3 separate regions of the Homo sapiens genome follow, and regions 1 and 3 are each reported to be linked to region 2. The links are microRNA targets in miRTarBase. Many come from high-throughput screens and were not tested one by one. Region 2 holds a microRNA gene; each other region holds the end of a gene's coding sequence.

Region 1 (10,843 bases), not on the chromosome of region 2:
ATGTCGCCGAGGCTGGTCTTGAACTCCTAAACTAAGGCGATCCTCCCACCTCGGTGTCCCAAAGGGCTGGGCTTACAGGCATGAGCCACCACACCTGACCCATTTTATGTATTTCTATGTGACTGGAATCCTCTATAGTGAATAAGCATTATTTTTCTCAATGATAGAATTGAGCATAATTTCTCTGCTAAGCATTTAGAGTTCATTTTTTCATTTACTATTCACAAAATCACCAGATGGTGGGTATTACATATTCTACAGGTGATACTTAGAAAAGTTAACCTAATTTCAGCAAGGTAGTAAATATTCTTTAAAGAATATTTTCAAACGCTATCTAAGGTTAATGTAATCTCCACAGGCTCATTTTGTCTCTATGAGAAGGTGACTTCTATTTTGGCTATTTCTCCTTCCCGTTATGATTTCACTTCCCTCTCAAAACTACTCAAATCCATTTCCTCTGGGAAGTTATCACAGGCTGTAGCCCCTAGTGACTGCATTCACTCTACTCTCTAGCATTTTAATGCACTCCTTTCTTGGTCTTTGCACCTGTCACCATTTGGATTTGTATGCAATGTTTCTATTCTTTTCCTCTCCCTCTTTTGCTTGAGCGTTGATCATTTGCCTGGAACTTCCCGTGATCCTTCAGAGCCTGATTCCAAACCTACAGGGTAGGTGTTAGGACTGAATCCTTAAGTGTAGCATTTGATGGGTCCTTAATATTGAGGAATAACAATCTAACCAATCAAGCAACCTTTTCCTTATACCGGACTATATGCTGAATCCACCGAATTATGTAAATGTCTCTGAGTTGAGAAACTTCTGAAATAATAGATAATTCAAGTAATGTCTTCTTTTTTTTTTTGTGGAGGAGAGGTATGAGTCATAAAGAGTCACAAATTTTTTTTTACAAAATATGCTAATTGTACTAAATACTTTGTCATACACTGGCAACCTCTTTAACATCTAGACACTAGATGTTGCAAAATTAGGACTCATTTGTCCGTTTTATACACTATATACAGAGCAAAACAACATGCACAAAACATGCAAAAAATGGTGTCTGAAAATGTCCAAGTATGAACACACTGGCATATTATCTTTTGCAATGTCTTCCCTCCCATCTCCTCTAAACCACTGAACAAGTATAGACAGTACTATACTGCTCACAAAGGTGGCTTCACAATTCAATTTCCAAAAGACAGCATTCCCCATGAATTTTAGCAAAAAGATATTTACGAAGTGGTATTTTACTACCTCTACATTTAACATACATTGGGCACTTCTAAACATCTAGATAGACTAGATGTTTCAAGTAAGGAGTTCATTTGTCCACTACGAACACAGCAGTCTTGAATAAACTGCAAACATGTGACAACAGTTATAATTTGAAAGAGTCTTCCAAATAGGAACATTCTGGCCTAGAACCCTTCCCATCTCCATCAACCCAGCGGGCAAGAATGCTCAAATTTTCAGAAGACAATCTTTCCTAGGACTTCTAAAACAAAATGTACAAAATATATTAGTTTACTAACTCTACTTTTATCATGTACTGGCAACCTCTTTAATATCTAGAAAGACTAGATGTTGTAAATCAGGACTTGTCTGTCCTTTATGTACACTATATACACAGACAAGTAAAACAAAATGCGCAGAGATAATGATTAATCTTGCCTCGCTGTAAGCACAGTGGCATAGAGATCTCTGCACTTCCCCCTCCTCCCCTGAACCAGTGCACAAACACAATGAGTATTACTCAACAGGTGATTGGGCCATTCCCCCACCAAACATTTCATATGAATTGTAACAAAAAGATATTTACAAAAGGTTATTTTTTTCTACATATATCAGGCACTTCAGAATATCTAAAAAGAATAGACATTTCAAAAAAGCTTAGCATTGTCAACCATATACACAGTAGTGAGGAATGAAATGCACACAAAACAATGGAGAGAATATGAAAATGTCTTCTAAATATGACCAGTCTGGCACAGAAGCTTCTTCTCTTCCTTCTCAGGTCTTCCAGCTCCATGTCCTCTAAACCACTTAACAAACGTGGACGTCTCGCTTCCAGAGGCCGTGTTAACAACTCCATTTCCAAAAGTCGTCTCCAGAAGACATTTATTTTCTATGATTTCTTTTAAGCAAATGAGAATTTACAAGATGTGTGATTTTCTAACTTTATCATACATCAGCAACCTCTTTCCATCTAGCTCATAGAAGGGCTAGATGTGGCAAATGTTTTCTATTAAAAGGTTTGGGTAGTGTTGAGAGCAGCTGTTTCATATTAAATACACAGGCCTTCCATAAACGGCCAGTAAATCTTCCCAAAGGGTGGTGGGCATTTCCAAGAGGCCAGACGTGGCTTGTCATTCCACCATTTCTCTCTTCCGACAGCAAGCTCTGGTAGAACGAGACCAACCGCCCGAAGGCCGCTAACTGTTCCACCCGTCATCGTTCGGGACTTCGCTCACCTCCCAAGCCCGTTAAGGCCTTTGTCCGTTGTCCTGAGGACTCGGCAGGTCTCGTCCAGTGGGAACAGAGCGGTCACCCGGGCCCGGACTCGCGCGGCTCCGTGGCCTAAAGAGGCGGCCGAGCTTGCCTGCGTCGCGAGACCGCCTTCCCGGGCCCTGCACACCCTAACGGTCTCCGCCGCGCGGTGTTGGGGCGGCCGCCATGCTTCCCGGCCCGCCTCTCCCGCCGCCACCCGGAGACACTGCGTCTCGGCGGCTCGGCGGGGTTTCGTCGAGGCCGGGCAGGATCCGGCGGCGGGGTCTGGGCAGGGAGAGCCGCCGCCAACAGTCACCGAGGTGGGGTGGGGAAGAGAGGTTCGCCGCGGCTTCGAGGCCTGCGCCCGGCCAGTGGGCAGCCACAGCGGGGCCCCCCGTGTCTGCAGGGCAGAGGGCGCAGCCAGTCCGGGGCCCCCTAGCTCATCTCCCCATCTCACCCGCCGGCCTGGAGGGCCGTGGGGGAGCGCGCCGCGCTCTGCGTCTCTTCGAGCTCTTTCTGCCGGGCCGGAATGCAGGAGTCACAAATTGATTCAAATAGGTTTACAAATTTAAAAAAGAAGCTTGACAACCACTTAACCTGTTAAAGGATACTACAGGAGTGGCAGAGAATTCCTCAATTCTTCTGCTTCTGTGCTGCCAGGGCTAAAAGCTGCTTGCATTGTAAATAACCAGGAAAAAGGAACAGATTTCCAGGTGGTTGATGATGTGTGGTTGAGAAAAGAGCCTCAAGGTAACTACTTAATATGTTGATTCTAGATTATTTTCCTCGTCCAGTGTAATTAGAGAAACAAACACACAACTAGTGAATCAAAGATTTTTATTTTGTTCCACAAATGTGTACCTTTTATATTTCGTTAGTCTGATAGCAAAAATTACATTTTCCACCTCTACAGTCAGTTCTCTAGTTTTACTCCTGTGCTTCAGTGTTTGAATGACAAGCCTCATCAGCATGACATATTTAATCCAACAGGCTTGGACACCATTTGGCAAACCAGTGGATTCACAGTGATCACTGCAGAAATCTGAAAGTGACTTGATAATACACAATTTAGGGTGGGGAAAAAGGCATTTTCCCCCTAAATCAAATATTTAAAAGTTTGCAGACTTATTTCAAGCATGTGGGAAAGTATAGAAAACAACAGCGTATTACTATGTACTACTCATCACCCAGTGTCAATTAAAAAAAAATTTTTTTTTGAGACAGCGACTCACTCTGTCATGCAGGCTGGAGTGCAGTGGTGTGATCATGGCTCACTGCAGCCTTGACCTCCTGGGCCAAAATGATCCTCCTGCCTCAGCCTCCCAAGTAGCTGGGACTACAGGTTTGTGCCATCATGCCCAGCTCTGTCAAATTTTATGCTTCTCATATTAAGCTTTTTTTTTTTTTTAAGTCACATATAAAGCTCCCTGTCTGTGCCTTTCAGATCCCATTTCTTTTTTTCTTTCCCTAGGTAAACACTGTTCTGAATTTGGTGCTTGTATTAGTCCATTCTCACACTGCTAATAAAGACTGGGTGATTTATAAAGAAAAGAGGTTTAATTGACTCACAGTTTTGCATGGCTGGGGAGGCCTCAGAAAACTTAACAATCATGGCAGAAGGAGACGCAAACACATCCTTCTTCACATGGCGGCAGCAGAGAGAATAAGAGCCCAGGAAAGGGGGAAGCCCCTAAACCATCAGATCTCATGAGAACTCACTATCGTGGGAACAGAATGAGGGAAACCAGCTCCATGATTCAATTGTCTCCACGTGGTCCTGCCCTTGACACATGGGGATTATTACAATTCAAGATGAGATTTTGGGTGGGGACACAGCCAACTCATATCAGTGCTTATTATCCACATGCTATTATTCCTGTGTTTATGAATCCATACATAATACTACAGTATTGTTTTGCTCTTTTGTACTTTAAATGGTATATCATACATACTATTCTGTACCTTCCCCCTTTTTGGTGGTTGTTTATACAAGTAACTTGAGTCATTATACAGTTATATTCCATTATGCCAAAGTTTATCCATTATCCCGTGGATGGACTTCTGGTGCTTTCTGTTTTGCTATATAAACAATACTGTGTACATTTTTGTACATCTCCTTTACACATGAAATAGTTTCTGACATGTTCATGTGCATACAAATCATTTGGTGGGTCTTGTTAAAATACAGACTGATTCAGTAAGTTTGGGGTGGGACTGCAAATTGTACTCATATGAGGAAAAATGGGGGAAACATATAAAGGTAATGCTATTGTAGAAAATACAAAAAAAAAAGACAAAGTGTCCTCATAATCTAGTATGTGGTATAGCAGAGTGGTTTAAAGCATGGCCCCTTTAAATTCAGTGTTTGAATTACAACTCAACTACTTGGAAGTTGAGTGACTTTGGATAGGTCATTTAATGTCTCCAAATCTTGCTCTTCTCATTTTGAAAATGAGAATTGTTATAATAGCACCTAGGTTATATGGTTGTGATGAGGCAATTTGCTAATATACTAGATACAGAATGCTTAGGACATTGTCTGGCACATAGCAAAAACTCACTAAAATTTGAGCTATTATTGTTAAGTTTTAGCCTCCCCCCCATTAATATATTCTTTCTCTCCAAATTGGATCACACTGTACATGCTCTTTTTATAGCAAACTCTCGTCCACTGATTGCAGAATGAAAACATTTCCAAGTTATTCTCTATTAAGTCATTTAGAAAGGCTGTTTAGTATTCCAATGTATGTATCTACCACAATTAAATCATTGTTTGATGCTTCAAGTTGAATTATTTTACTCATGAATAATACTGCATAGCTAAATCATTTTATACCTTTTAGTTTTAATATCAGCTCACTTTCTCTCCCCTTTTAATCAGCTCTCAGCTGTTACCATTCTCCCCTTCTAATCTGTGATCAGATAATCAATCGAGTTAAATCAGTTTATTTGCTATACCTTATCTACAATTCTGTCACTTGCTCTAGACCTTAGGTGAAAAGGACAGCTATTACAGCAGCTGTGAAGGCAGGCTATTTTTGCCTATTTTAGGGTATGCCTCTTAGTTAGTCCAGCTCTGCTAGTCTCACTGGATATGAGATTAGGAGATACCATCCAGAAGATGCTGGCACATCCTTTTGTTGTGGGTGCCTTTTCCCTTCTACTACCTCCCTCTTGGGGTCTGAACACTCAACCTACCTTTATACCCAGCTGCTGCCACCTCATTGTTACCTGTTTCTGATTTTCTGAAGCCGCGATGCCCCTTAGCCTAGGTCTGGGAGTTACCAGTTTTCTTGACTTCTGACACCAGTATGTATGCATGGTGCTAGTTTCTACTTTGTGGGCCTCTCTGCTTTAGTTTCTCAAAATTTTTTAGTAGCCTGTAGCACTTATTTGTGCTTTTTAAAAAACTTCGGATCCTGTTAAATTCCCACATTTTTGTCTATATGGGAGCACAGAAAACAGACTTCAACAATTAAAACTCCCAAATCAGGTATTACTAAGTAGCCTAAATCCAGCTGGATAGTCCTGTTTCCCAAACTTGCCTGAAGGACCACAAGGAATACCTGTTGACATATTCCCAAGCCCATCCCAATGGGCAGCTCCTGTAATTTGGATATGTTATCTGGATATATTATTTAACACCCCAGGTGATTCCTATAATCAGGCACAGTTGGAAACAATGGGCTTTTAACTAGGATTTTCTGAGATCTTCCAGGACACTGGGAAGTTCAACTGAGACCTCAGGGAGCTTGTATGCAATTTAGAGGTAGTGTAGGGGTCATCCCGGGGGGGGGGGGGGCGGGGCAGGAAAATTCTAGGATTCAAGTATTAGTTCGAATACTGGAAAGTCTGTAGAGCTTGAGACCAAAGAAGGAATTTATGCTCTTTTTGTTTTAATCTTGCTCCTTCTAAAGGAACTTATGCTCTATTTACCATCTCTACACCAGCATGGTTTCAAATATATATCCCCTGGTTATAGTATAGATTCTGTACCAAACACTGGGGTTCCAGAACTGTCAGATGAGTCATGCAGCTCCTCAAAAAGTGTAATGGAGCCAGGCATGGTGGCTCATGCCTGTAATCCCAGAAATCTGGGAGGCTGAGGCAAGCGGATCATGAGGTCAGGAGATCAAGACCATCCTGGCTAACATGGTGAAACCCCGTCTCTACTAAAAATACAAAAAAATTAGCCGGGCGTGGTGGTGGGCGCCTGTGGTCCCAGCTACTCAGGAGGCTGAGGCAGGAGAATGGCGTGAACCCAGGAGGCGGAGCTTGCAGTGAGCCGAGATCGCGCCACTGCACTCCAGCCTGGGCGACAGAGTGAGACTCCGTCTCAACAACAATAACAACAACAACAACAAGAACAACAACAAAAGTGTAATGGAGAATGCAGGTCTTTTGAGGACTGAATCCTTTGCATACGTTAAAATCATTTGGAGGGCATATCTTTTATTATGTAAGGTTTTATATTCACTTAGAAAAATCAGCTGAATGCCAGAACCGTGTTAGTAACTGCTCTGGCAGTGCTAGCTATGCAATTTTTGAGGACTGAGAAAGCGCAGAAGTCTGATATACCTGCTTCAACTCGTGACAGGCATTTAGTTTCTTGGATCATCCATATGTAAAATATAAATCTTACTCCCTCAATCTGAGGACACAGGGAGATCCAAACATGCACAATAATTCTTTTTTTGTTGGGGGAGGGCAGGAAAGGGGATGGAGTATCGCTCTGTCACCCAGGCTGGAGGGCAGTGGTGTGATCTCAGCTCACTGCAACCTCTGCCTCCCGGGTTCAAGTGATTCTCCTGCCTCAGCCACCTGAGTAGCTGGGATTACAGGTGCCCGCCACCACACCCAGCTTATTTTTTGTATTTTTAGTAGAGATAGGGTTTCACCATGTTGGCCAGGCTGGTCTCGAACTCTCCTGACCTCAAGTGATCTGCCCGCTTCAGCCTCCCAAAGTGCTGGGATTACAGGTGTGAGCTACTGTACCTGGCCATGCCTGAGAAGATCTAGAAACAGAAACTGGTGAATCCTGACCCCACTACACACATTATTTATTCACATGAGATCACAATTTGTTTCTCTTACAACTCATCCATTTGACAGACTAATGTGATGAATAAATAGAATTCTATAAAAGTGAGGCCAAAATAAAAAGCAGCCTAAGATTGTTGAAGAAAACTCAAATGGTGGTCCACGAGACCGCCAAAGTTGAGAGGGAACCAAACTTATCGGGGGGGAAATGCCCCTATGGTTCTAAAACTAAAAGCTTGTCACTCTTTACAAACTGATTTATCTCTTTGAGAGAATCCTGAACATGAAGTCATGCTACTAATGTTTACTCTAAAAGTAGGTTAAATATTTGAGCATGTTCCCCCTAATAATTACAGAAATTATCTCCTTCCTAAAAAAAAAAGTTTAAAACTTTAAATTGTGAGACAGTAAAGTGGTATGGCATGAGAAAAGTACTTTATTCGTGCATAATTTTTCAGTTCCATTCAAAATTACAGTACAAAAAAATTCCCTTGCTTGCAGAGTTTTTGTTACTTTTTACTTAAATATTTAGAGTTAAGAAAAAAATCAAATTTAAAATCACTATTGATGGAAGCTTATATTCCTTATGAATATATACATGTATGCATATATACATCTCTGTATGAATCACTCAAAGCAATTTTAAACATCATTCTTTTTTGTATTTAAAATTGCCCTTTTAAACATTTAGAAGTTCCAGAGGTGGAGGCTTTAATGGAATTTTTCCCAGAGTAAATTTCTTGGATTGAAATTGTTCCAGTTCTTCTACTGTTAGTTTATCTCTGGGTGTGAATAACACATTATCTGTTGCAATGATGCTGCTTGAGGCTGACAGAGAAGTGGATATGCTGCTATTTCCAAAAGTGTCACTGGATGGCTTAGAAAAAGCAGTGTGAGAATGTGAGCCCGGACTACCAAAACCAGCCACAGAACTGCCACCTCCAAAGGCTGGGGCCACTGGAGCTCTGACAGGACCTGTTGCCAAGGAAGCTGGAAGTCCTGAAAATCCAGGTGATCCAAAACTGGAAGCTGCAGGGCTTTTGAATGAAAATGATGCAGCCGATGTGACTTCAGGCTTCCCAAATCCAAAAGCTGGAGCAGAAGTAGAGATACCTGAACTGGTAGAGGCTGCAGCTCCAAATGCTGGGGAACTCCCAAAACCAGCAGGGCTTCCAGAAGAGGCAGCAGCAAATCCAGAGTTTGTTTTAAAACTAAAGTTCTGAGCATTATCACTGCTGCTGTTATTGACTGGAAAGCCTACAAACAACAACAACAACAAAAAAAACAACAAAAATCTATTACGGTCAGAAAAATGTCACAATTATTTCCTCCCCCTATCTTTTTTTCTTATTTATGTCATGTTTCAGTGTTGAGAAGCTTACTGGACGGACGAGATGAGGAAAGTAAAAATGAGAGGCTAGAACTACCCACTAAAGCCTGCTGCCTGTCTTTTCTGCTAACAATCCCATTTTCACCTTGATCGACCTTCACCCAAGGAGAAACCACAGGGACTAGGGAATAGACTTTCACTTTGGTTTCTACTTACCTCACCAGAGCTGCTACCTGAGGACAATGCTATGCTGTTATACACAGTGACAAGAAAGTTCTCAAAGGTGCTGCTATCATAGCTATGTACTTCTACGAAACTCCTGAAAACTCATTCCTAAAATGTACTTCTAAAGCTTAAGTGTCTTTCAAAGAACATGCCCAATCTGGCCTCCCTTTCACAAATGTCTAATGAGTCAAATGCTTTGAGGCTCTATGATGGAAGGTTGTAGAATTTACGAAGGTAATTTAAAATGGCGATTCAGGCTTGTAATTTGAAACCTATAAAATCTAATTTTTCTAAATCAGTGAAGTCCTGCATTACTTTATCACTTACCTGGCGACATAAATGTTGCTGCTTGACTGCTGCCAAATCCAAATGCAGGTGCTGCTTGATTTACTCCATCCTTTACATCAGAGAGCTGAAAAAAAAAAGTGTGCAAATAATAAAGTGCTTGATGAATAGTGCTCCAGTATCTTTTCTATACACTTTATGGACAAATTCAAGTTTTTAAAATGTGCATTAAAGGCTGGGTGTGGTGGCTCACACCTGTAATCCTAGCACTTTGGGAGGCTGAGGAGGGTGAAGGGCTTGAGCCTATGAGTCTGGGACCAGCCTCAGCAACACAGCGAGACCCCCATCTCTATAAAAAATTAGCCAGTGGTCCCAGCTATTTGGGAGCCTGAGGTGGGAGGATCACTTGAGCCTGGGAAAGCCTGGATGACAAAGTAAGACTCTGACTCAAAAAAAGAAAAGAGAAGAAAAAAGTGCATTAAAAAAGGCAAAGTTAAATGCTTAACATGGAAAATGCCCATAATATGATGTTGAAAAGGATAAGACATAATACTGTATAAACAGTATAATCACAACTAGTAATATGAATATGCATAAAAAATGTACATTAGTAAGTTAACAGTGATTATCTCTGGCTGATAAATTACAGGTGATTTAAATTTTATTTATGCTTTTTTATACTTTCTAAATTTCTACAATGAGCAGATATTATAATCAGAAAAATATTTTTAAATTTTTTTCAGTGTCTATAAGGGTAGATCTGCATTTATCAAGAAATCTAGATATTAGGTAAAAAGGACCTTTATAGAATACCCAGTCTAATACTCGAAGTAGATCCACTATTATATAATTAAAAGCTTATGACTAAAAATCCATTAAACATTTCCCATTCCCTGAAAGTACTTTATGTTCTTGCTGTTCTGTGCTCTAGAAATGTCTTTCATCTCTGCTTACTGAAATCTTAATCCTACTTTCAAGGAACTTTGTATTTGCTCCTTCCTTTCAAGAAGACTTTCTTAATCATCCAAAGCAAACATAAGCGATTTCTTTCATTTGGAAGCCTCAAAAGCATTCTTTGGCCGGTGTGGTGGCTCACGCCTGTAATCCCAGCACTTTGGGAGGCTGAGGCGGGCGGATCATGAGGTCAGAAGATCGAGACCATCCTGGCTAACATGGTGAAATCCCGTCTCTACTAAAAATACAAAAAAGCTGGGCGTGGTGGTGGGTGCCTGTAGTCCCAGCTATTCGGGAGACTGAGGCAGGAGAATGGCGTGAACCCGGGAGGCGGAGCTTGCAGTGAGCTGAGATGGCACCACTGCACTCCAGCCTGGGTGACAGAGTGAGACTCTGCCTCAAAAAAAAAAAAAAAAAAAAAAAAAGAATGCTTTTGTTTTTGAGACTGCAACCTCTCCTGGGTTCAAGTGATTCTCCTGCCTCAGCCTCCTGAGTAGTTAGGATTACAGGCGTGTGCCACCA
Region 2 (10,843 bases):
TTTCACATTTGCTTTTGTAGACGTTTAAAATATTTGGATCTTTAAGCATCAAGCATGTATAAATTTTTAATTAATAGAAAGGTAGAGGTGCATAAAGCATTTTGAAACATTTCTTATAGTATCTGCTATCACTACTTGAGATATAATCAGGATTGAATATACTTAAATTCTTTGAAAATGAAGTGGAATTTTTATTAAATACTTCAACAGAAATCTTTTTTCTAAAAAAATAATTTAAGTTTTAAACATTTTCGTCATTGTAGCACTAGCATAACACTATTTCTCCAAATCAAAACTAATTTAAAACTATTTAAGGAACAGTATTGTGTAATAATATTCAATAGGGTAGTATGACTCAGAATAGAAACTTGAGTATCTGACAAAATTAAAGTCAATACAGTTATCATTGCTGTTTCTTATGCCAAGTAATAAAATCTTTTGTGTTGGTATAATCATTTTCAATAAGAGTATGTCAAGAGAAATTGTCTTTTTAATTATGTCATTATCATTGCTTTTATTTACATGTTAAGTTGCTTTTGATTTTAAGTTGTGTATATAGTTTTTGTTGGTTTCATGAAACATGGATTATTAGTAAAAGTATGTGGCTATAGCTGGTCAGAAATCTTTTTGTCAGATTCAGTATCAAGAATAAGCATGAAAAGTACAATTGCATTGGTGAACATTTTTATCAGTAATGAACTTAGTGTCAAACAAATATCTTTGAAAGCATGAATCAATACATAAATTCATATTTTATCATGATCTCTTCACACATTTTCTGTAAAGTGTATGGGCATAGTGGCAATCACTATGGAGAAATAAGCCTAAGCAAATCTCAAACTTGAGAACTTGACCTCTTAGAGCTCAGTACATTATGACTGCTTGTTTTTCATAATTCTAATCAAAAACCTGGATAGGTGCATCGCTGCAGTCTAGCATGGAGTGAAAATTTTAAAATTCAGATTTATCTCCACCTATTTCAACCATGTAGTATACTTTATGAACATAGTGATTTGATGAGGTAAAAAAATTTATAAAGAAAGACCCAGTTTGTTATTTCCAACAGTTTATTTTGTTTCTCTAAAGATCAGACACTGGGATAAGGATAGAAAATGCTTATTAACCAAAGAGGTAGTAACATGAATAATGTTAGAGTGTTTATAAAAAAAGTATCTTAAAATAGAAAACTCATATAAACTTTTAAGTGCCTTACAGCATTCACGTAGTCTAAATTCTCATTCTAAAATATGTTGCTCTGTATTTAAGAAATATTTGTATTTCTGTGACTTTGACCATTTTCTTTATTGTGACCTCATAAATTGCATGAGTATTCTCTAAATAATTTATTTCAGCATTGATAATAATAAGTAGCAGAAAGGTTGTCAAAGAGCTATAAAGATGTTAAGGAATGGCTTCTCTTAATAGAAGTACAAGGAATGGGTATAGTTTTCATCATCTTAAATAACTTTTTGAGAAATGTGGAAACAGTTCCCTAGAAATAGCATCTATACTCACCCCAAAGGTACCAGACTTCATTATAATGACAATGTTATTAGTAGATTTTTCAGGATTATAATGGGTTAGGTGTTAATATGACTAATACTCTTTTTTTTTTCTCCAGAAATTCCTTTCCTGCTTCAAGATTTTAGCATTAATATGTAAATTCAGTAACAGGGCTATAACATTCAATTTGTTCTCTCTGTTCCATTCCTTACCCTCAATAATGACAATAATGCTGATAAGAATGATAAAATACTATGAGATAGGTACTACTAGTATCCACATTTTGAAATGAGAAAACTAAGTCCCAGAGAGATTAAATATAATGTGAGGCACACATAGAATACATTGCTTATTCTATGTGTGATAGTTACATACAGGTCTCTGCTTGTAGAACTCTAAACTTTTATGTACTGCTACACAATTGCTTCAACATTTCCTCCTCTGTTTCTTGGTTTGCACCATTTATTGCTATTTAGTGTTTCTCCTTGTCATCTTTGTATATCTGCATCTGTGATATGCATTTGCCACAAATAACCTACGTTTTATTATTAGGTAAAATGTTAATGCAAACACTATAAAGGAAATGATTGTATCACATTTATTTAGCCACCTACTCTACCCTTTAGAAAACTTTTAATAAATGTTCTCTGAGTTGCTGATTATTTATTTATTTACAAATACATTTCATATACTAGTCAGTTGATTTTGTTAGCTGCTGAAGATTTTCTAGGTGTGGAAAAAAGAAAAACAGGATGGTGCCTCTGCCTAGAGGATGCTTATTCCTTGGATAAAGTGGTGATCTACTCTTATTTGATTAGGCTATTTCAAGGATTCTTGACTGTCAATTGGAATTTTAATTGGAGACTTTAACAGCAAATAACCTTTATAGCATATGATTTACATAAATAGATATTCAACAATTTTAATATAGCCACATAATGAGGAGGTTATTCAGTGGGGTCTACTTCCTTCCCCAGCCCTAGTAGAGATTAAAGAGAGAATGTCCCATTGTCCTCCAAACTCCTCTGCCATACAAGTAACTGACTCTGGGTCCATTTGGAGAAACTTCTACACTCAACCACATAAACCTCATAATTCAGAGTAGTTGAGGCTGTATTCATTGTGGCATTCTTCTTCCACCTCATTAAATACCAGGCAGGCCCCTTTGATCAGGTCTCCATGGCAGTGCTGCCCCTGGTACACAAGTGTGTACCCATTTAGGAAAAGACAGTAACTGCTTACCTGCACAACCTAATTATATGGAGATATGGTCTCAGTCCTTTAACAGTGAGACAGAAACAGAAATCCAAGCTCCAGGGACAGGAAAGTCTACTGAGATCAAAACCCCTTCTTTTGCCCCACAAAAACAAAACAAAACAAAACAAAACAAAACAAAAAACCAAGAAAACCTGTAGTTAATTTCTGCCAATTCCTAGATAGGACTTAAAAATTAAACCTCTTCAATAAAGTATTTACATACTGCCTCTTACAAGGGCATATGGTAGTAAAATAAATGGATCTATATGCTATTCTGTACCAAGCATGAGTGCATGAAATTTTACCAGCTGGGAACCTTTATGGACAGAGACCCTGTGTGTGAACAGGCATAATTGCCTATACACATGCTTTTTATGGGGAGAAGAGATAGTGGAATATTTATTTTTTTCATTTGAACAAACTAACATAGGCAAAATTTTCTAGAGCTTAAAATTTCAGAAAAACTGCAAAGACTAACACCTGGTCTTGGAAAAATATTTACCTTGATGATTACCACCTTCCTGGTCAAGAACTGAGCCTGTCTTCTTAGAACGTTAGAGCTAGAGTCTGAGATCTAATGGAGACATTAAAGCTGATAAAAATAAGTTTCAATGTTAGGAGCCATTAAATGGGCAAATTAACCATTTGTTTTTATATGAGAAAAATAATTTATGTGTTGGCTGGTAGAAAAGATTCCAGTTATTAATAATACATTTAAAATTTACAGTAATTGCTGAAACAAAGGTTTTTTAATAGAAAAAGACAACTTCAATAACATTATATTTATGTATAAACACTTCCATTCTTTGTTTCCAGTTATTATATCATCATCACACATTTATATCCAGAATGAAAAGTAAAATAGCCCAAATAATAATTTTTAAAATTAAAAAAAAAACTGAAGCAAAAAACATGTTAAATGGTGTGACATGGAAATACTGCTATGTCTTAGCTGCAGTAGGGCTAGAATTCTGATCTCGTAGTTCCCTTTGCTAGATTCTTCCCATTGCACCAGGAAGTACAAATTTAAATACCACTGCCTCTCATTTGGCATTGGAGACTGATACTTTGACTCAGGCATTATTGAAAGTGAACTGGACTAATGTTTGATAGAATTGCCCTAAAGGCAAGAAATTATTTATCACTCTATCTTTAAAACAAGAACAGTGACCTGCTTAAGGGATGCTCAATCAATATTTATTGAATACATAAATGAAGGTGACCAGTGTCTGGGATGCCCACAAAACTGTTTGAAAAGAATCACAAGCACCAGGCAAGCTGCTGAAGATACTCCAGGGGAACAGATTACTGTATTCACTTGAAATGGAGGAAATATGAACAGCTGCTTATCTGCAAATGGTTCCTGCTTAGAATAAGTTTGTGTGCATTTGCAGGAACTTGTGAGTCTCCTATTGAAAATGAACAGGAGACTGATGAGTTCCCGGGAACACCCACAAATCTTCCTACTCATTTCTACTGCTTTGCAATGGACAACATTTTATGGCTGGTACCTTCCACTGTTGTCAGTTCCTCCAAGTTCTGAGTATAAGTTTAAGTTCTAAACAAGGAAGTAATGTTGAAAATGCAAAATAATTCAGTTAGGCAAGGGTTAACTTGTCCACTCAACATGGATGTCAGTAGGTTTACTTGAGGTGTTGAATCCCACCAAGGGAAGCATCTCTAATAGTCCTGATCTTATCTTTGTAAACTCAGCAGACATTCTACAAGACATAAATTATTCAATGAAATGAATGGTGCCAGTGCTTATGTGAAAGATAATTTATAGACCTTGCAGGAAAGGAAAAAATTAAAAATCATATGTATTCCCTTAAACTTTTTTTCTTGGTTGTATCTAATCAGGAGTTTAAGTATATAAATGTTGAGATTGTTATCTAATTTTTTTCTGAGAAAATATTTTCTCTGTTCATGTTCATGTGTAACATCAACTTATGTAATTAGTCTTTTTATATTTCAGGATTGTTCAATGGACCACATTTAGCATCAGCATTGATAGCATGAATCTGTTGTTAAATCTCATAAAGCAGCCTTTCATGAAACCACATAAGGTTGATCCTTTATAATCTGTTTATGGTCTTCTTTTAACAAGAGTGACAAATTCAATTACTGAAGGAGGAATATAGTAAATGTATGAAGTTGATGATGTGTATCCTACATTAGTGAGTAGCAGAGACTCTACTCATAGTCATACCTAAATACTTTCAAATTCACTTAGAAAAATGAATCATATCTAAAGGTTATATTTGTGTTAAATATTCTATAATAATTAGTGATAAAGTTCCTCTCAGTGTTTTTCTACATTCCTCAAAATGTTATCTTCAAAACATTCAATGAAGTTCTTACATGTAAGCTGGTAATACAAATCTTACCTTCATTTTGACCTGTCTTTTTTCTAAAACAATGTGCAGCCTTTAAATTTTTTGCAAATTAAATCCAGTTGGAGCTTATTTCTGTAGGATTTCTTCAATTGATTTTAATTATCCTGGCATAAATATGGAAAAATATTAAATCGATTGAAAGCATGTTTTCAGACAGAAGTATCGTCAATCACTGGTCAGTAGACCTTTCTGTTTCTCTTTCACAATCTAGGATTACAGTTCTCAGCCTTTTTGTTTGTCTTTTTGCCCCACATCTAAACCCATGATCCTTGTGTCTGTGTGATCACACTGCTGGATGTGGCTGAGATAAAACAATGTGTTGGCTGTATTTTATTTCCAGTAGCTTGTTGTGATGTCTCCTCTGAAAAGCTTATCTTACTAGAATGCAATAAGGTGGCATATATGTCACCCTGAACATGCCCTTCTTTTTTTTTAATAAAAGCAAATCATCCACTAACATTACTCTTTAATATTAGTAACAAATTACTGGCTTCTGCAACATGTCATCAGGTACAATCAGGAGAGAGTTGAGAATCACTTTTCTGGAATGTATAGTTCATCCTAATGCCAACAGTTTTTTTAAGACCAGGGGCAAGTTAGAACAATAGGCCTCATTCAAGGAGCTCATCTGACCCTTGACTTTCAATAACTAGAGAAAAAAAAATCCTTTCAATTTTTTTCCCACATGTAGATCAATAACATGGAACTTATATGTCAGCATCAACTCAGCAGACATCTCTATTGAGCATCTATTTTCAACTGTTCTGCCAGAGTCTGGGGTTAGAAACTGACAAGCGTGTTTGTATAGCTCTTTGTTCATCATTATTATAATGGACACAGCATTATATGTACAAGGTCCTGCCTCACTCGTTGGAAATCATACATTAGGCTTTCTTGTTCATACCCTGCTCTGCATTACCTTAAGCAATGAAATGTGGTCAACCCACTGGGGAACATTTCTTAAATATCTAAAATATGTTAGATCCACTTCAGTTTAAAAGCCTGCATCTCTAATATTAACTTGACGAAGCTCTAACTACTATTTCTATATTATTTCTCTCTCATTTAATGTTCTGTTTGAATGTATTATATTCAGTTTATCTCAAGTTGCCTAAGTGGAAACTCCTAAATGTGTCTCACAATTGCATGTTATCTCATAAAAGCAAAGTTTTAGTTTAGTATTGAATTCATTCTAGGATTCTGTAGATGACACTAGCTAGCCTCATTAGAATAAATTATGGGAAATTACATAGAGAGAAAAACAGACTTTCACCTGTAAAAGCGGGAAATCAAAAACAAACAAGCAGTACATATATTACTTAAAATTGGAAGAAAAGAAATAAGCAACAAAAGAAATTATGTGAGTAACTGTGGTATATTTTGTGCAAAAATCCAGTGGCCCATACTCTTTCCTGGAAGGTAAGACTCTAATTAAAGTTTCATTTGTCATTACCCTCAAATCCAAGGAGTAGCCCTGTCATTTTAATTAAATACCATTAACTGAAAGATTACTGCCTAGTATGACTTAATTGGCTCTTCAAATTACTCTTTCTAGAAGGAATATACCATTTTAGACCTTCCATAAAAGCTTGTTTTAAAAATTTTTTTCATAGTACCATTTTAGCTTAGATCCAATTTTTTGAGCCTCCATTTTCTATCCTAATTATGTTAGCCAATAATGTCTTTCAAATATATCAATGTTTTATCTTCTCTGCAATTAATTTTCTTCCCCTTCTCACTGTATATTTCATTTCTGAGTTTGAGTAAAGGCATGTCAGTACACTGAAAGCAAACATAACTCGTTGATTTAGTTAATTTATGAAAATTTAGGAAATTTAAAGCAATTCTAGGTTATTCTATTTATTTGTATCAATACTTAAAATAAAATTTTTGTTTTTTATTTGCCCACCATAGGAAAATAAATAGCCAAATATAACAACTGTATAGTTACTCTCACTTGTTGCTGAACAATTAATTACCAAGATAAAAGAGTATATTAGGCAAGTTCAATGGCGCTTCTAGGAACCTTAGTGAAAGTGGATCTGGTTTATGCAGTTTGAAACTCTCTGGAGAATTCAGCTGTTTGTACTGACTAAAAATAGTGATCCTAGTTTCTGCATGGCAACCTCAGATCCCTGACCTACAGGCATCCTGTTCAAATGTTCCACCACCTGGGAAGCTAAGGATAGCTGTTCTACCCCTCAGAAGTAGCAGAACCTTAGGCAACTAGAAAGTTCAGTTTTATTATTCATTGCAATTAGTTCCATAATAGCACCAGTTCTTGTAAAAATCTTTCCTAGTGCAACTACTACTTCAAATGCATTTTTTATAGATAGACTTTAATATTTAATTGCTATTGACACACTTTAACTATGCAATTAAATAGTGTTGTGTGGGCCTAAATGTTTATATGTTGTCATATGTACACACAGACTTTATATATATATATATAAACGTGTATATGTATGTATATATATATGTATGTATATATGTGTGTATATATATGTATATGTGTGTGTATATATATCTATGTATATATGTATGTATGTATGTGTATATATATATGTGTGTGTGTGTGTATATATATATATCTCCCTGCTGCTTCCAGGGAGTCCAGCCTAGTCCCATTTGCTGGCCAGGCCTCTCTCAGCTTCTGGTCGCCACCACTTCCACACTGCACCCATGGGGCAACCTCACCCGGACTGACAGGCACAAGGGGCACCGTTGCAATTATTAGGGACAATGCAGGGTCTCCCTGTGTCCCTCCTACCCACATGTGGGCAAGAGAGACTTTGAGTGCCCGGGAGTGCTCAGTGTTCTGAGAGGAGGGCCAGCCAAAGGGAGGGGACCCTGCAGTGCCAGCAGGGAAATTTTGATTTTGAGGTTTCTAAATGCATTAAAGTTATTTCTTTAGCCATATATATATATATATATATATATATAATATATTATTATATATTATATATATTATATATATAAAATATTATATATTATATATATTATATATAATATTATATATAGTATCTAAATACATATATATAGTATCTATATACATATATAGTGTATATGTGTGTATATATAGTGTATATATGTATATATATACAATTGCTAAAGAAATATATATATATACTGCTAAAGAATATATATACACACACACTATATATATATACACACACTATATATAATGTGTATGTGTATAGTTTTACAAATTTATATATTACAAATTTGTATATATATATATACACATACATACACTATATATATATATATATGGAAAATACATTGAGTTCTAAACCATTGACTTACTTATGTATAAACTTTTAAACACAGTCAACTTACAATTTGGGAATTATTTACAGATGGACAAAGGTCCGCAGGTCGATAATTGAACCTCTGTCCTATTCCTTGGAAGTAATCTAAATATTTGCTCTTTTTAGATAATTATTTTTTACATTTCAAAAATTCTAACAAAATTATATTCTTTTCGATAGTAAGTCTCCATTTGTTAACAAAACTCAGAATTACATTCACTTTCCCTGATAGTGATTATTTCGTGCTGATCAGAAGAACTGTTTGCTGATCAAATTGTAGCAACATCTGTGATGTGACTGGTTAATCAAATACAATTATCAAGGGTAATAGGTGGGCAGAGGGCTTGGATTATATATGCCAGACACAATCCATCTTTGGAAAAAAGAGCAGACTGAAAGTTTACAGGAGAAAAAAATATTTTCAAAACAAAAACTGTAAGGGAAAATAACAGTGAAAAAATATTCCCTGATTTCTTTTTATACTTTGTTCAACTAATTTTCGTTGAGTATTAGTTTGTTTAGACACTGCGCTATTCTCCAGGGATTAAAACTGAGAAAACTTAGCATGACACTTGTCTGTATGGAATTAACATTTAATGATTTAATATATAATAAGTATATTAATATAATAAACACAATATAACATATTCTAGCCGGGCGCGGTGGCTCACGCCTGTAATCCCAGCACTTTGGGAGGCTGAGGCTAGTGGATCACTTGAGGTCAGGAGTTCGAGACCAGCCTGTTCAGCACCGTGAAACCCCATCTCTACCAAAAATATAAAAATTAGCTGGGTGTGGTGGCGCATGTCTGTAATCCCAGCTACTCGGGAGGCTGAGGCAGGAGAATTGCTTGAACCTTGGAGGTGGAGGTTGCAGTGAGCTCAGATCATGCCACTGCACTTCAGCCTGGGTGACAAAGCAAGACTCCATCTCAAAAACAAAACAAACAAAAAAACCAAATATATATATATATATATATATATATATATATATATATATACACACACACATATTTTATATATATTTGAATTATTAAAAGTGATTAATATACACTGAAGGGAAATGTCAGTTGCTGTGACAGCATAGAAGGGAAATACCTGCCTTATTATGGTTTGAGTGGGGGAAATGAGGGCTTTCCTTGGGAAGTTGTGTTTGATCTGATATCTGACGAATTAAAGATTAACAGAGTGAGTGTGGTAGAAAGATGAGAATGTTCTAGGCAGAAGGAACACTATGTAAACAACCTGAGGTTAAAGACAATAGCAACACGTACAGCAATTTAAAAAGACTAGGCCGGGCACAGTGGCTCACGCCTGTGAGGTAGGAGAATCACTTGAACCCGGGAGGCAGAGGTTGCAGTGAGCTGAGATCACACCCCTACACTCCAGGCTAGGCAACAGAGCAAGACTCCGTCTCTAAATAAATGAATGAATAAATAAATAAATTAAAGAAGACTGACATGACCAGAGCACAGAGAGTGAAGGAGGAAGGAGTTTGGATTGAGCTCAACAGGTAGATAACAGCTCCAAATCATCTATAATCTTGTGGGCTGTGGTAAGGGCTTTGGTTTTTATTCTAAGGACTTGGGATGTTGTTGATGTGTTTGAATTGGGGAAGGCCAGTTAACACATTTGTGTATGTGTGTTTATTTTAAAGATCACTACAGTGTAAATAATGTATCAGAGGGAGCTGTGTGTGTATGTAAGGGACTAATTACAAGACTATTACAATAGCTCAGGAGAAGATGGTGGCAGTGAAGATTTAAAAACTACAGAAAAGAGACAGGATACATTGCAGAGACATTTAGGGAATGAAAATTAATTGACTTGGTGATGATGAGTATCAGCAGCAAAGGATAGGGAGGATGAGGTAACAATAATAACTACTACTTTATGGTGTGAGTCACTGAATATGTGTCAGTGTGGTCCACGAGGTGTAGGACAATGACAGACAACCAAGACTGTAGAGATAATCATGTGTGAGATGGTTATAATGAAAAGGTTGAGAGCCCTTATCTTAGAGGAGCATAGCTAATCTATTTTCTGAAATATTTCTAGTGTACTGATATTGAATATTTGCTAACTTGGTTCTATAGAAGGTCTACCACTCTCTAAGCAGGTAGAACTTTAATGCTGTTGTATTACTGGAGTTTACAGATGGCTACCATTAGTTAAATGCATACAGTGTTCTAGTAGCTGTACCAAATCATTGTTTCCAAACTTCTCAATAATCCTGATATACTAGCAAATGGCAGAGCTGGAGTTCAAACTCAGGACTGTCTAACCCCAGATTGCATACTTTGGACCATGTTGTGCTACATCTCTTCATCTATTGTGAATATGCTGTTAGACAGGTAATGCTGTTTTAGTGGCTAAG
Region 3 (10,843 bases), not on the chromosome of region 2:
TAAAAACAGGATAAAGCTGTTATTCAAGAATCATGTTTATGTTATTATTGAAAGCCCACCTTTGGCAATTCTATCTACCACTCTATAGGAATAAGACAGTTCATTTCTTCCAAATCTAGATTCAAGACCACAACTTAGATTTTCAATACATAAGAGCCTTTGCAAAAGAATAAAATATAGGCTCAAACAATAAAACTACTTTAGTTTTAACAAATACTCATCATAACTATTTGTCAGTTGTTCTTTTGTAAAAGCATCATTTTTTATTTGTAACTACAAATATCCCCATTTAGTGTGCTTATTCTCAGTGAGTTTCCTATAGTTAAATTTACTTGCTAATGATTTATCAATTATTGAATATTCAGATATCATAAATCTAACTCTCACTCTTAGGAAAACTTTGTAGTTATACTCCAGTAACTTACTGATTCTTCCAAATAATTTGTGTTATTACATAGTTAAATTAAGCATTATAAATTTTTTTAAGTCACTGTTGGTATTTTCTGAGAAATCTAACAATATGGGATCTGTCGGGGTTATTTCAAGGGAAGAAATTACCGTCACACAGTCAGTGGCTATAATAACCTGTTAAAGATCGTAAAAACCTGTTTTATAAATATTTGAAACTTCTTTAGTCCTTATGCTTTTTTTCAGCATATTATTTTACCAAAAAAAAAGTGTCATTAAATTAATGTTATTATGGCTGGGCATGGTGGCTCACGCCTGTAATCCCTGCACTTTGGGGGACCGAGACGAGCGGATCACTTGAGGTCAGGAGTTCGAGACCAGCCTGGCCAACGTGGTGAAACCCCATCTCTACTAAAAATACAAAAATTAGCCGGGTGTGGTGGCATATGCCAGTAATCCCAGCTACTCGGGAGGCTGAGGCAAAAGAATCACTTGAACCTGGGAATTGGAGGTTGCAGTGAGCGGATATCGTGCTGCTGCACTCCAGCCTGGGTGACAGAGCAAGACTCTGTACTACAGTTTAGAATATGAACTAGATCCATATTTAGTTACAAAAAGATATTTCTATTTCAAGATCTATTTTTATCTAAAACATCAAAATCTTGATTAATATGTATTTTTTAATCATGTACCAGTTTATATATTATTCTATTAGAGTGAAAATCATATGTAAAAATCAGATGGTAAGGTAGTAGTGCTTCAGAAAATACATCTGCAAATGTATTTGGCAAAAGAAGCATGCCAAAGCCTCTAGTACTTTGTATGAGGCTTATCTTTTATCACTCCAATAAATATACCCTGGAAAAGCAACCATTAGGCCTGGTGCGGTGGCTCACACCTGTAATCCCAGCACTTTGGAAGGCCAAGGCGGGCGGATCATGAGGTCAAGACATCCAGGCCATCTCAGCCAACATGGTGAAACCCCGTCTCTACTAAAAATACAAAAATTAGCCGGGTGTGGGCCAGGTGCAGTGCTCACACCTGTAGTCCCAGCACTTTGGGAGGCCGAGGTGGGCGGATCACGAGGTCAAGAGATCAAGACCATCCTGGCCAACATGGTGAAACCTCGTCTCTACTAAAAATACAAAAAAAAATTAGCTGGGCCTGGTGGCACGTGCCTGTAGTCCCAGCTACTCTGGAGGTGGAGGCTGAGGCAGGAGAATTGCTTGAACCAGGAAGGTGGAGGTTGCAGTGAGCCGAGATTGTGCCACTGCACTCCAGTCTGGTGACAGACCAAGACTCCATCTCAGAAAACAACAACAACAACAAGAACAACAAATTAGCTGGGTGTGGTGGCGCATGCCTGTAGTCCCAGCTACTTGGGAGGCTGAGGCAGGAGAATCGCTTGAACCCAGGAGGCGCAGGTTGCAGTGAACCAAGATCGTGCCACTGCACTTCCAGCCTGGCAACAGAGCGAGACTCCATCTCAAAAAAAAAAAAAAGAAAAGTGACCATTAAAAAAGGTGGCAAGCTGGGCATGGTGACTCACTCCTGTAATCTCAGCCCTTTGGGAGGCTGAGGTGGGTGGAGTACTTGAGGCCAGGAGTTTGAGACCAGCCTGGGCAACATGTCGAAACCCTGTCTCTACTAAAAATACAAAAATTAGCTAAGCATGATGGTATGTTCCTGTAGTCTCAGCTACTTAGGAGGCTACGGTGGGAGGATTGCCTGAGCCCAGGAGGCAGAGGTTGCAGTGAGCTGAGGTTGCACCACTGCACTACAGTGTGGGCAACAGAGTGAAACCCTGTCTAAAAAAAAAAAAAAAAAAACGGTGGAATCACCATTAAAAAGTAGGTTGCACTTGAGAAAGTAATTGCAACAAACCATAGGGGATTTTTGCCCCATCTGGATGTATAAACACTTTTAAAAGACATTTATTCATTCACTGATTTAATTACTATTTGGTTAATATTTATTATACACTGGGAAGGATGGTAGGTGATGCAAATTTAATGGTGAACAAAATGCAATTCCTGCCTTCAAGGGGCTTATGCTCTCCTTGTTTTCTACATTACTTTTTATCATTCTGTTGTTAAATATTATTTTTGAAAGCCTTAAAATATTTTAAAATTACTTTCTTTTCATCAAAACTTTATTTTACTTTCTTCTTATCCTTATGATTGGCATTAACAGTACTGCAAATTCTAGAAAAGAAAATCTCCAAACCTGTATGTCTTGTTAGCAAAATTAAGAATAATTTTGAGCCAGGTGTGTTGGCTCACACCTGTAATCCCAGCACTTTGGGAGGCTGAGGTGGGAGGATTGCTTGAGCCCAGGACTTCACCAGCCTGGGCAATATAGTGAGATCTCATCTCTACAAACAAATAAAAAATTAATTAAAAATTTTAAAAAAGAATAGTTTTGAGAAGCTTATTTTGATGAAATAATACATATTTTTGATAATTTATAAAATAAAGGAATCTGGTAACTTTGACATAACGAGGCCATTAATTGTTTAAATGTACACACTGACATTAGAGCTTTCTCAAAGACAAAATAAGTGTAAAAGTCTTTCATTATTATTATTGTTATTATTATGTGTGTATATGTGTGTGTATGAGAGAGAGAGAGTTTCACTATGATGCCCAGGCTGGAGGACAGTGGCACGATCTTGGCTTACTGCAACCTCTGCCTCTCAGGTTCAAGCAATTCTCATGCCTCAGCCTCCCAAGTGGCTGGGATTACAGGCGTGCGCCACCATGTTGGGCTAATTTTTGTATCTTCAGTAGAGACGGAAGTTTGCCATTTTGGCCAGGCTGGTCTCAAACTCCTGGCCTCAAGTGATCTACCTGCCTCGGCCTACCAAAGTGCTGGGATTACAGGCATGAGTCACCACACCTGGCCGTCTTTCTCTATTATTGATAACCTTTAAAGTGTTAATAATTCTGCTAACAATTTGTTTCTTTTCACTCTGCAAAATCAGTGTCTTACATATCTTTTTTTTAATTTTTTCTTAATATTTATTCTTCATTTCTTTGGATTACTTTACACAGATGCGTTCAGGTCAGCTTTCTCGAAAATTTTGGGGATCGAGCAAGCGGCTCAGCCAGATTTCAGCTGGAGAAACTGAATATAATACTCAAGATTCCAAGTGATTGTTATTTCCATTTTCTGTTATGATTACTGAAACCTGATTTATTGCTTTGTCACTTTAACCACATCTCTCAACTCTCTGCAATGTTGCAAGGCTTTTATCCCTGAAAATCATTTACAGATAACCACAATTTGCTGTGGTATATAAACTAATTCTTGGTCTATACTAAGATGTATTTGAGAAAATACATTTGATTTGATTTTGTGGCCCATTCCTAAAGGTCATTGTATCCATTTTTAAAACAAACTAAAATGAGAACATTAGGTTCAATTTTCTTATTATTCCAAATGATAAAATTTAAGATTTTTCTAATAAAAGAGTACAGATAATGGGACAGTTGAGAGAGATGGCTTTAAATACATTCTTAAGTAATCATTTTCCTATTTACTGACCACTGTAATGAAAATATATCAATTTATTTATGGAACTCCTGATTGGGGATAATATTTTAAAGGTATCTGTTGCACACTTGGATTTTCAAAACTCGGTGAAAGTTACAAGTTTGCATGGTAAGAATAAAATAAGAATATTGAAACTGGTACATTAGCTAATTCTATTACTACTTAGCGTGTTTCTAATGAGAAGTTACTGAAATCTATTACTGTCCTTAATAAAAATTGAGTAGAAAAAAGTGGAACTAGAGATACATTTTACAGATGTATTTCCTTAATAATATAATTAAGCAAAAGTGCTAATTGTGATTTTGACAGTTGGGCCTTTTAAGTAGCATTTGCAGCACAATTTGCATTTGCAAAGTTCCGAATTTCTTGACTCTTTCTTCACTAAGCAAATACTGTTTTACTCTAATAATTAAGAGTTAGTAGTACCCAAATATGTTGAATTTTTACTTAGGATATCTGTGTGATTGATGAATGAATTGAAAAGATATGTATAACTTAAAATAATCATTTATATATAGTAATTTAAAAATTTCTATTTCATGTTTTAGGATTATAGCTAATTTTATTATATAGTGTTAAATGTTGTGGTTGATTATTAAGATCTTAAAGTAAAAGTCTGATTTATTTAATTTGGAATTCAAAGACATTGTTAAACTTAGATTTTTTTGTAAGATTATCTTTTGAGTTAGGTCAGAGAGCTTTTACAACTACCAGTGTTATTAATCTGAGATTTCATGTGTTTGGGAGAACTTGTGAATCCCTCTGAAATTGTGCAGAGACTTTGTATGTTAAATGCATTTTCAGGAAGGAATGGTTACATGGCTTTCTTTAAAGGGATCTGTTTCCAGTAATAGTATTCTTTTTTGTTCCACAAATCATAGATGTCCTTAAATCCAATTGTCTTCTCAGTTGAATCTTAGAGAAATTTTTCTTTTGCAATTTCGCTTTCCTGTTGACCACAGTATCCAGTGCCCTTTTCTTTATAATCTTTTGAGTGAGTAAAAAAATTTTAAGAAATAAAGGATTCTGTTTAGGGAAACTTTTGAATAGATTTGATTTGATGTGAGTCAGGGCTAATAAAAAGCTATAGAAGAATTTTCTTTCCAATAAGTAAAAATCCTCTGTTTTATTAAGGAAAAAATAGCTATGTTTTAGGTAAATAACTCTGAAATAAACTGGTACAACAATTGTAAAATAGAACATATTTAAATGTCAAGGTGTCTTTTCTTAAGACTTCAGGAATTTGTATTGAACAAAGTCTCAAGTTAAGTAGCAATAATTATGATGCATAAATGAGACTGGCATCTATTCATTTATTTTATTCTTTTTTGGGGTGATGGGAGGTTTCAATCCAGTGCTTCACCCGTGGTGCCACCGTGGCTATCTTTTTTTTTATCTTACAGTTTTTTAGGAGATTTCAAGTCGGCAGAACTAACATGATTGATTTTTAGTTTTTAAAATACTGATTTTTTTAGAAACTTTTTCTAAATCAAAACCTACTAAGTTTTATTTTGTTATTTATCCAGAGATTTTGATGTAAAAATGCCTTCATTTTTAAGATTACTTAATACTGGATTTGAAAATTATTTTGGATGCTTATAAGTTTTCTAAAACTTAGATAATTAGAAAAAATGCCTAAGTTTATGATGTTTTACTATGCTGCTTTTTAGATGGAAGAAATAAGCAGTTTTTACTTTATAGTACAAATAAGTTTTGTTCACAATAAAATAGATATCCTACCTGGACTAATACTAGATGTACAAGGTAGTGGAATTATTTCTTATATTGCTTTTTCCAAAAAGTAAAAACCAAAAATGTGGGCCGGGTGTGGTGGCTCATGCCTGTAATCCCAGCACTTTGGGAGGCTGAGGCAGGCGAATCACAAGGTCAGGAGTTCAAGACCAGCCTGGCCAACACAGTGAAACCCTTTCTCTACTAAAAATACAAAAATTAGCCGGGCATGGTGGCACATGCCTATAGTCCCAGCTACTTGAGAGGCTGAGCAGCGCAGGAGAATCACTTAAACCCGGGAGGTGGAGGTTGCAGTGACCTGAGATCACGCTACTGCACTCCAGCTTGGGCAACAGAGTGAGACTTTGTCTCAAAGAAAAGAAAAAAAATATGGAATTTAGAGAAAAATCTTTGAGAATACTAGCAACAGTCTAGAGAATGGAACTTAAATTTTATCTGTTAAAAGAAGCAAACAACTATTAGTGAATAATATATTACTCATTTAAAGAGTATAGCCTACTGAATTAAAAATCACTAGATAAAATAATTGGAAAGAAGTACTTTTGAGAATTCTGGTATATTTAGATGTTACCCATAGAAATTAGTTATATATTATATAATGGGAGAAATGAACAGTATCATTGGAATGAAATAACAGGTGGACATTTCAATTGGTGAATATAGTATCTCAAGTTGGCTCTTACAAAGTCTGTTACCTGGCCAATTGTGGTGGCTCACGCCTATAATCCCAGCTCTTTGGGAGGCCGAGGTGGGCGGATCACAAGGTCAGGAGTTCAAGACCAGCCTGGCCAACATGGTGAAACCCTGTCTCTACTAAAAATACAAAAATTTGCTGGGCATGGTGGCAGGTGCCTGTAGTCCCAGCTACTCAGGAGGCTGAGGCAGGAGAATCGCTTGAACCCAGGAGGCAGAGGTTGCAGTGAGCCAAAATCGCACCACTGCACTCCAGCCTGGGCAACAGGGCAAGACTCCATCTCAAAAAAAAAAAAAGTCTGTTATCTTTGCAAAACTTTTTGTATGCTTTTGTTTCTTGATACTGGTGATGACAAAAATAAAAATCTCAGCATCCTGGTGATAGGAAGAGATTTATACCAAGATAATTATTTTACTTTTGGAAAATGAGATCAAGTATTAAAACATGTAATAGCTGTGCACGCTTAGAGAATAAAGAACCTTTATAAAATTTTTTTACAACTGTTTGCAATCAGTATTCTGGCATTACTCAGATAAAATTGTAAGAGAGAAAGAAAAATAGATCAGGGCATAAAAATCAGGAAAGTATATAAAAATGAAGTTTGGCAAGTTGGTTTAGTCTTTCTTTTTAGCCTGTGAAGCTCACGTCTGTTATTAAGTTAATAACAAAATTAAAATCTGTTAACTTTGTTTAGGTCACAGTGCAGTGCATCCTTTTGTAGAAGAAAAAATACCAAGTGTTCATTCTGTCATTAGCAAGGAACACCAATGAGGTTTCTTTTTTTTCTCTATTTAGGGCATATTAAAATTATCCTTCAGAGTACTTGTATTGAAAATCAAGTTTATGCTTCTGAAAAGAATAAGTGGGCTCTCAGAATTAGAATTCAGATTTGACGGTTGAATCTTAAGACATTTTATATTTTGTGTGAAAAGGAGTGGTCAGGGGAAACTGTTAACTTGGATACCAGATTTTTATTTAATGATGATAGAGATATGACCTTTGCCTTTATGTATATTTTATATTGTTACTACTAAAGAGACCACTGAGGAAATCTTGTAATTGAACTTAAGGAAGTTAGCTCCTTTTATATATTTATAAAATGAGTAGCATTATCTTTACCACCTTTCCACTGAAAAGATGCAAGTCCTAGGACTATATTAAATATAAATATTATATTATTAAATAATATATGTAATATGGGTGTCTGTTGGGGTTATGTGTGTGTAAAGATTGGTCTTTTCAAATATGTATATTTAAACCTGTCTTCTGGAAACAGGTTCTTGAACCTATCTTTAGGATACAGTTTTTGACTGGGATATAAGAAATGAAACATGTTTGTTTGTTTCCTTTTTGTTTGTTTGTTTGCATCATCAGCCATACTCATGGCTTATCCTACGCATTGTTCCTCTCATCAGCTGAAACTGTTTCTCCCCAATAAGTGAGCAATCTTAAACATTTTCATCACTCTTTAACAAAATCCATTCTCAATATTCTTTTTGCTGAATTCGTATATTGTATATGCTCAACATATTATTTGTTTTAAACTTGACTCCATCCAGAGCATTGTTCTATAGAGTTTTCCTGTATTTATCAGAGTCATGTGGTATTTTTCTTGATGACCTTAGGCAACAATATAGTGTTATCAGTCATCATTTTAATATGATTTAAAATGTGGACCACAGCCTGCCTTCTTTAGTTTAAATCTAGGCCAAGCATGGTGGCTCATGCCTATAATCTCAGCACTTTAGGAGGCTGAGGCAGGAGGATCACTGGAGCCTAGGAGCTCAAGACCAGCCTGGGCAGCATAGTGGGCTCCACCTCTACAAGACATTAAAAAATTAGCCTTGTGTGCTGGCAAGCGCCTGTAGTCCTAGCTGCTCGGGAGGCTGAGGCAAGGGGTTTGCTTGAGCCTAGAGATCAAGGCTGCAGTAAGCTGTGATTGCACCACTGCACTTCAGCCTAGGTGGCAGAGTTAGACCCTGTCTCCAAAAATACATTTTTTTAAATTTAAATCTGGCAGTTTCTAGGCCAGTGGTTCTTAATGGATATTACAGATCAGACTTCTCTGTGGAGTTTATAAATATACAGATATGTAGGCACTGCTTTGGACTTCATGAATCTCTTTGCTTGATATTCTTGGTATTAAAAAATTATGTCTGAGGATTATTATGTTATATCCTAAAAATTTTTCTGCATAGAAATTTGTCCATTTATCTTTATATACCAGATCCAATATTCAGACTTATTTGAAAATAGGCTTAATCATTATCCTGAGGGACATTTTGTCTAAAATTTGCTTGGAATGGCTTTATTATCTTTGTTTTGCCTGCCACAAAAACAACAAAATCTCCTTTCAATTGAGTTATTTTTATCATGAACTCTCTTTAGACTGTTCACATTTGAAAATTATAACTAATATTTGCCTCCAGAAAAGTACATCTGTTTGCTAATATTAGTTCCTGGTGACTTTCAGTGAACGTTTTGCAAACTTGAATTAGGCAACATTTTAAAGAAGAAAAAAACATGACTAACATGCTAAATTTAAAACATAAAAGTAGATCTCTTAGAGCCTTGAAGCTTGTAATCAATAGAATTTTCCTAATTAAAAAGCATTGGGTAAATTATCTACTACTTCCAATGACTTTTGCAGGTACAGCCTCTGTATGGAAATAATCTTTAATTTTTTATAGGTATAACAGAGAAGAACGCATTAACATTTAAGATGTTTAATTCCAAATAGGAAATAATTCAGTTTTCTGTGTTAAGAAATGTAAGGCCATCCTAGAGTATAGGAGTTACGTGATTTTCTTCTGTATAAAAATCTCATTTAATAGTGGCTGTATTATCAGATACTTATTTGATTATAGTAATTCATCAGACACATCTCCTTCGTTTGGTGATTATCTCATTGATCTTTGTCACACGTGAGTGATTTCTAAACACATTGCAGGATTTGGACCTGTAAAGCCAGTGGCTTTAGTGATAAGTAAAAGGGCACATTCAACAATATTTACCTTTGTCTTAATGCCCATAATCTTATGAACTGAAAATTCAGAAGGAAAAGAACAAATAGAAAGCTACTAATTCAATATTTGTTTTTCATGGTACGGTTTTCATGTTTCCTTGGAAACATATTTTGCAAATATAACAATAATAGTAATAACACAATTTTGTCATTTAAAAAATTACCCATTCATTTTTCAAACTTGACTGTTAGTGGAGGGGTATATGTGTGTCTGTGTTTCCACTTATGTAATGGCTGTCTCATTATTTAAATTAATTTATAATTATTTTTCAGTGTACAGAGTGATTAGCGGCTTGTAATGCTGTTACAATGTAGCATTGTAATGTAAGATGAAGAAAAATTAGGATTTAGGTGGGATTTTTAAAAATTTATCAATTCAGCTACTTTTTAAAAGAAGTCCTATTCCAATTGGACCTTTAAAATTTTTATTTTGGTAATATTTCAACTTAAGATGTATTAAAACTAGCAATTCTGTGGTAATCAGTGTACTAGTCAACATTAAAATGCTATTTTGGGTTGTCTTCTTTTGGTAACATATTCTGACACTAAGCAACATGTTTTACAATTTAGTGGGATGAACCTACAAATTCATAAATGCTTCTCTTTATTTTGAAGGAAAAAGATACTTGTCTGTATACGACATAATTGTTTTACTCTTCAGAATGTGAAAGTTATATTAATCACTAAACACTTTAAGAAGTGGTTCTGGTAGGATATCAGTAGTCAGACTTAATTGAAAAACTGTCAGCGTCTGTTTTGTATATAGGGATTAAAGAGGATAACTTTATTTTTTCCTTTGGAAAGAATAATTCTTTTGGAATTTTGGAATTTTGATTTTCTTAGATGACTTTTTAGCAATTTAATGATAATAATTTCTATTTTTCTTCCAAAACTATGGCATGTTATAGTAGATCTTACTATTAAAGATCTTTTATATTTTAAACTGTTTTTTTCCTATTCTGCTTTTTGCTGCTCTCAAAGACTGTGATTGATGAACATCACCAAACTTTTTTTGTGGCAAACTGCTTATTTTATAAGTAGCTTTATATAAGAAAACTTCTTAGAAAACTATGTGGCTGGTTGGTTCCATTTAGAAACTCTTAACAGGTATGGCTTTCATTCCTCCAGTTGTTTGCTTTTATAGACTTGGAGCAAAAAATATAGCAAAAAGTAATCATATCTGGCTAGATAGCCATTTCTCTCAGATTCATTGCTATAAAAATGAATCTACTGAGGCATAAAAATATGAAACATATTTAATTCATCTCTTTTGTCAGTTTTTCTGGGACTCCAATAGCATTTCAGTGTTATAGAGAGTGACAGTGACTTGAATGCATGTATATGCACATAGTCAATTCAGAGCGTAATAACTAAAAATTCAGAATGACTTGTTTTTTGAAAGTACTTGG

The links. The annotated mature microRNA hsa-miR-873-3p reads GGAGACUGAUGAGUUCCCGGGA and lies in region 2 at 4,186-4,207, shown strand. An mRNA with a match to its seed (bases 2 to 7 or 8) in the 3' UTR can be bound and repressed. Matches are read on the target gene's strand: a 7mer-m8 pairs with bases 2 to 8, a 7mer-A1 pairs with bases 2 to 7 and ends in A, and an 8mer does both.
Region 1: the mRNA of NUP42 is a reported target of hsa-miR-873-3p. The part of its 3' UTR that is shown has no 7-base or 8-base seed match.
Region 3: miRTarBase lists NBEAL1 as a target of hsa-miR-873-3p. Seed matches in the 3' UTR shown: 7mer-A1 at 5,220-5,226.

What each region holds. Positions count from the first base shown.
Region 1 is chr7:23,198,109-23,208,951 of GRCh38, reverse strand. It overlaps NUP42 (nucleoporin 42), which reads right to left. Exons shown (of 7, transcript NM_007342.3): 6 at 9,410-9,494; 7 at 7,946-8,784. The coding sequence ends at 8,207. Among named protein-coding and RNA genes, the nearest start is that of NUP42, 21 kb to the right of the region's middle. RefSeq lists an enhancer at 2,459-2,518 and a silencer at 2,709-2,988.
Region 2 is chr9:28,882,253-28,893,095 of GRCh38, reverse strand. It overlaps MIR873 (microRNA 873), which reads left to right and starts at 4,141; the gene lies at 4,141-4,217. The region is part of intron 2 of LINGO2 (leucine rich repeat and Ig domain containing 2); the gene reads left to right.
Region 3 is chr2:203,213,792-203,224,634 of GRCh38, forward strand. It overlaps NBEAL1 (neurobeachin like 1), which reads left to right. Exons shown (of 56, transcript NM_001378026.1): 56 at 3,462-10,843. The coding sequence ends at 3,563. Among named protein-coding and RNA genes, the nearest start is that of CYP20A1, 20 kb to the right of the region's middle.